Linked DNA regions of Homo sapiens: region 1 is linked to region 2. Evidence: fine-mapped QTL for protein levels in blood plasma. A gene starts in region 2. The other region holds a variant in brackets. All regions are shown on one strand. Distances are from middle to middle. Region 1 overlaps NPTXR (neuronal pentraxin receptor). Region 2 holds the start of NPTXR (neuronal pentraxin receptor).

Evidence for each region. PIP is the posterior inclusion probability: the model's chance that the variant is causal. The UK Biobank Pharma Proteomics Project read protein levels with antibody pairs (Olink). The fine-mapping took linkage between variants from a reference panel, not from the people measured, so its PIPs are less certain.
Region 1: its variant is fine-mapped to the plasma level of the NPTXR protein (UK Biobank, PIP above 0.99).

Annotation. Positions count from the first base shown.
Region 1 is chr22:38,823,200-38,826,098 of GRCh38, forward strand. NPTXR (neuronal pentraxin receptor) reads right to left here. Exons shown (of 5, transcript NM_014293.4): 4 at 1-63. Among named protein-coding and RNA genes, the nearest start is that of NPTXR, 19 kb to the right of the region's middle. The variant C/G (reference allele first, on the strand shown) is at 1,493.
Region 2 is chr22:38,841,627-38,844,499 of GRCh38, forward strand. It overlaps NPTXR (neuronal pentraxin receptor), which reads right to left and starts at 2,402. Exons shown (of 5, transcript NM_014293.4): 1 at 1,609-2,402. The coding sequence starts at 2,232. RefSeq lists a silencer at 1,921-1,990.

The sequences.
Region 1 (2,899 bases), 18 kb before region 2:
GGTCCAGGCGATGCAGATGTGGTGCCAGCCATTGTCCTTCAGGCTCAGGGGCAGCTGGGCCACCTGGACACAGGTCCCCCAACCCCAGGTCAGAGGTGCCCCAAGGCCCAAGGCCCATGGCTGAGGCAGTGGGGTGGGGCTGGGGAGACCCATGTCCATCCTTCCAGGGCCCGACCCCAGGCCTGACCCTCTCCATCCTCCTGCCCAGTGTCTTTCCCTGACTCCTGTCTCCTCTTTCCTCAAAGACCAAACCAGATCACAAGGGACTCTCTGGTTTTGGTTTTCAGTTGTCACAAGGTAGTTCACTCACTCTCCAACAGGCCTATTAAGGTCACTTGGGGAGAGAGGGATGTCTCATAATCCCAACTTCCCCTGAACACCTCACACAGCACTCAGCACACAGCTAGGGCTCAAGAAGTACTGGCAGGGATAGAATGAGCCTTGGACTCAGAGGCCAGGCTCCAGCATCTGGCCCTGGCTCTGCCACCAACCCCTGTGTGATCTGGGGAGGCTGCTCCTTCCTCCCTGGGCCTCAGTTTCCTTATCTGTAAAGTGAGGTCAGACAAGGGATGACAAGTCTGCAAGGGATGGCAAATCTTCCTCCACCCAGGGCAGACATAGCCAATCAATCACGAGCCTCGATTTAGCTCAGATCCCTCAGCACAGTGCTCTGGAAAGCCACTGCTGATGGGTTAGAGCTGGCCTGTAAGATGAAAGGTGCTTGCTGTCTGTGGATTTGGTGCTCCCAAAGGGCTTCCTCATCTGGTAAGTTTCCTGAGGTCACATTTTTTTTTTTGAGATGGAATTTCACTATGTTGCCCAGGATAGAGTGCAGTGGTGTGATCTCAGCTCACCACAGCCTCCATCTCCTGGTTCAAGCAATTCTCCTCCCTCAGCCTCCCAAGTAGCTGGGATTACAGGCGTGCACCACCATGCCCAGCTATTTTTTTTTTTTTTTTTTTGTATTTTTAGTAGAAACGGCGGGATTTCACCATATTGGCCAGCCTGGTCTTGAACTCCTGACCTCAGATGATCCACCCACCTCAGCCTCTCAGAGTGCTGGGATTACAGGCAAGAGCCACCTTACCCAGCCTGAGATCACAATTTAATGTAACATTCTCTGAGGCCTACGTGGTGCCTGGCCTTGTTGTGGATCCTGGGGATGTGGAGCTGGTCCACGCCTTAAATGAGCTGAGTCTGCAGGAGGGGAAGGACTTTGGGGCAATGCTATAAGACAAAATAACGGAGGGCATATGGGAGGTACAGAGGCTGCGAGGCCCAGAGGTAGAGGGGATATGGGAACAGAAGCCACGTCAAAACCCGTCTGGAAGGACAATGGATCCACCATTCCATTGCTAGGCAAAACAAGTGGTGGGCACAGAAGGAGTAAAGGCTTAGAGGCTGGAATAAAAAGGGAACAGTGAGCAGTCTGTTAGGCTGGCTCTCAAAAGGACTCTAGAGCGTCCCAGAACAGGGCTGCCCAATGCCCTGT[C/G]CAGGGTGCTGAATTCCTTCTAATGAGAACTGAGTGCTGAACTTGGGCCAGGCCAAGGACGGCAGCCAGGGGGTGATGAAGGGCACAAGGCAGCAGGATCTAGATGTAGTCCAGCCACCCCGGTGGTCGTAGGGTTTATTGGGCCACAAGGGAAAGTCACTGGTCCCTGGACTCATCTCCTCCCTCCTCCTCCTCCCCCTCCAGAATGCCATGAAATGCACCTTCTGCTAAGCTGGGTCTGATGGGTATCAATCACTCCTAGTGGCTTTATGTGTTGTGGGCTGGTCACAGGTGGGTACGATATGTGGTATCTGCATTTCCAGGGGGGTCTCAATAGACCACCATGCCTGCAAGGCCCAAAACAATGTGGCAGGTTGGGGAGGAGCTTTAGGAGTGGATGACAGTGATGAGATGCTCCCCTTCCTCTCCCCTCAATTACCATGCTCCTGCCACATCATTCTCCCTGCCTTGTCCTTGTCCTGCCTTCCAGCCAGGCTGAAGGAGGGGCATCGGGGAGGGAGGCCTGGGCATGAGGAAGATGGGTGGCCCAAGGGCAGAACAGGGGAGGGGTTAAAAGGTGGTTTCCGGAGCCCAAGACCCTGAATCACATCACACCCCAGCAGCTGTGTGGCCAGGGTGCATTACTTCCCCTCTCTGAGCCTCAGTTTCTCCATCTGCAAAATGGGGATAATGAGGGTACCTACTTCCCAGTGCTGTTGGGAAGGTCAAGGGTAATAATGTGAGTAAACTGCTTATTAGCACAGTGCCCAGTATAATAAAAATAGCTCACAGTTATTGATGTCTGCTAAACGCTAGGATCTGCTCAAAGCCCTCTACATGCATTTAAGCCACTTCTCACTACAACCCTAAGAGACAAGAGTTCTTATCATTCCTGCTTTAGAGATAAGCAAACTGAGGCACAGGGCAAGTAGAAGACTAGTCTGAGGTCACACAATGGTGAAGATGCAGAACCAAGACTCAAACCAGCATTTGGGTCCCAGAGCCTGAGCACAACACCTTTCTACTCTCCATAGCGGGGAGGGCCCGAGGGGCTGGCTCCAGGGAAGTAGAAGGAACGAGGAGGCCACAAGCACTCCCTTCCTCCCTCCATCCCCAGGTAGGTCTGTGCACCTCCCTTCTCTCTCTCTCTTTTTTTTTTTTTTTTTTTTGACACAGAGTCTTCCTCTGTCGCCCAGGCTGGAGTGCAGTGGTGCGATCTTAGCTCACTGCAAGCTCTGCCTCTCGGGTTCTGGCCATTCTCCTGCCTCAGCCTCCCGAGTAGCTGGGACTACAGGTGCCCACCACCACACCCGGCTAATTTTTTTGTATTTTTAGTAGAGATGGGGTTTCACCATGTTAGCCAGGATGGTCTCAATCTCCTGACCTCGTGATCCGCCCGCCTCGGCC
Region 2 (2,873 bases):
TGTATTTTAAAAATGAGTAATATTATAGCTTAATGATAAAAATAGCCATCACTCAAATTGACTGAACATACCTGTGTGCCAGGCACTATTCTTGGCCTTTCATATAAAGTACTTAATCCTCCTAATATCCCAGTGAGGTAGGTGCTATTACTATCCCCATTTTACAGGCGAGAAAACTAAGACTTCCCTTCATTGCATACTTTCACCTTTTTCCTGATTATTTTCCTGCTCTTGGTTCTCTCATCCTAGAAATCCCCCAGAGCTGGAGTCGGGGAAGAGGTGGGTATGGGCCCGGCTTTTCTCCTGCCTCTGCCACCTCTCTTAGGACGTTTCTGAGCTGAGTTTTCTCATCCGTAAGGTGAGGGGTTGGCTGCAATGGCTGACTGGCTGCACTCTGACACCCTGTGGGGAGGGTGCTGACACCAGTACAGACGTCCTGGAGGGCTGTCAGACCACGACATCCTCAGCCTTGTGAGTGGGCATCACCAGTGCTGCTTGCCCAGGATTTAACTTAAAAAGCCCCGGGAGTAAGGGGTCCCTGCATTTACTCCCCGCCTCTCTCCTCCCTCCAACTTGCCTGCTGCACTCCACCTGGGTGGAGGTAGCAGAGGGGGCAGCGCGGGCTTTGGCCTCTTTCTCTCTCTTCCTTCCACAGATCTGATTTTGTTGCTTAACCCCCTTCCTTGTGGTCTGGAAGTCAGGCCATGGCTGGGGTAGTGAATGTGTCCCGGATGTTTGTCCTGCCCAGTCTGTCTGCCTTGCACTTCTGGGAGCCCCAAATTCATTCTTACAGGGAGGAAGGTGGCCATGGGACTCCAGGGGGGAAATGACTGGCCCAGGGTCACATGAGAGCCAAGAGTGGGTTCCCCCATGCTGGACCCCTTGTGTCTGACCCCAAGCCTGAGTCAGGAAAGCCTGGAAAAGTGAGTGGAGGAGGAGGAGCTCGGGGGGCCCTGTTCTCCATTCAGCCCCCACCCAAGAGCTGTGGGCTTCCAGGTGTGTGAGGCTGGGCGCCTGGCACCTGAGCTCCTGCGGTTTGGGTCATAGTCTGAGCCAGAGTGGGAGATTCAGGGTAGGGAGGTGGTGAGGGGCACCCAGGTTTGTCTTATAGGGCACTCTGTTCCCGGCTCTGTGTAATGAGGGGAGGACCCCAAGTCCTTTGGACAGCGCATCCATCTCCTGGCCATAAAGTGTGAGCGTGGAGCTGGGCTGATTTGGGGGTGTCCGGAAGAAGGAAATGAAAGGGACATTTAATGAGGTCCTAGTACGTGCCAAGCATTTTCACACACCTACATTTGATTCAATTTCCACTACAAGTGGACACTGTTATACCTATTTTACAGACACAGAAACTGAGGCTCAGAGAGGTGCCTGGAGACGGAAAAGGGTGGGGAGCGAATCTTTCTGGCGCGCCCTCTGTGCCTCAGTCACCGTGCCAGACGCCTGCCCGCGTTCCCTATCGAAATCCCCCCGCCTCGCCAGCGAGGAAGGCGCGATCGTCCCCGGAACACAGACGGGAGACCGGAGGCTCGGGGACCGCCGGACGACCGCGGCCGGGCGGCCCCTCACACCACCCGGGCGGCTCCCCCGACGGCGCGCGGCGCTCACCTCCAGGCGGTCGATGCGGTCCCGCAGGGCGCGCACGGCGTCCTCCAGCTCCAGAATGAGCGCAGGCGAGTCCCAGGGCCCGTCGGCCATGGTGTCGCGGCGGGGCCCGGCGCCCTGGAGGCCGCGCGGCAGGCCGCTCTCGCAGCGGCCCAGCTTGCCGGTGAGCTCACGGATGGTGTCCTGGTCGGCGCGGATGCGCGCCTCCTGCTGCAGCGCCGTCTGGCGCAGCTGCTCGGCCGTGCTCTGCAGCAGCAGCAGCTCTTCGCGCTCGCCCGGCGCAGCGCCCGCCGCGTCCCCCTGCTGGGCCCCCGACGGGCAGGCAGCAGCCAGCGGCGTGCACAGGAAGCGGCTGAACAGGGGCCCGGGCGGCAGCGGGTGCGCGCTGGCCGCGGGTGCCCCGGGCAGCGCGGGGGGCCCGGCTGAACCGCCCGCGCCGTGCAGCGCGCTCAGGCTCCGCTGCGGGCCCGGGGACGCGGCGGCGCCCGAGGCGACCGAAGCATTGTCGGCGCCGCCGGGCAGCGCCCGCGCCGGGCTGGCCGCCAGGGGCACGCTGGCGATGATGCAGATGACGGCACCGAGGAACGCCAGCATGCCCGCGGCCAGCAGCACGGCCAGGAACTTCAGCGTGAGGCGGGCGGCGGGGGCGCCCGAGGCCCCCGGCAGGCGCGGCGGCGGGGTCGGGGCGCGGAGCCCGGGCGCGCTGGGCCGAGCGGGGCAGGCGCGGGAGCCGGAGCCGGAGCCGGAGCCGGAGCCGGAGCTGGAGCTGTCGCCGCGGCCGCTGCTGCCGCCGCTCTGAGCCCGGGCGGCGGGAGGAGGAGAAGACGGCAGGCGGCGGGGAGGGGGAGCGGGCGCGGCGGCCCCGCCCCACTCGCTTCCCCGGGCCGGCCCTGGCCCCGGCCCAGCCCCGCACCCGTTCAGTGCCGGGCGCCCGGCTGGGGGCGCCGCCGGGGATGCGGCGAGGAGCGAGGGCAGCGCCTGGGACCTTATCTCGCCGCGGTCACAGCGCAGGGGCCGGCGACCCGAGGGCCGCGCGGCGGGGCTCCTGGGTGACCCCCATCCCAGCCCTCCCGTGCTCGGGCCCCCTCCCCAAGCCGGTTATGTTCACATCCACCCGGGAGGGAGCTTTCTTCCGGGTGGGGCTGTGCACTGGGCGCGCCACAAGCTCGGTCGCAATTGAGCCTTGCCGTGGACAGGCTCACAATAGAAATGAGGAAACTGAGACACCTGAGGTCAGGCCTCTGTCCAAGGTCACCGGGTGGCTGCGT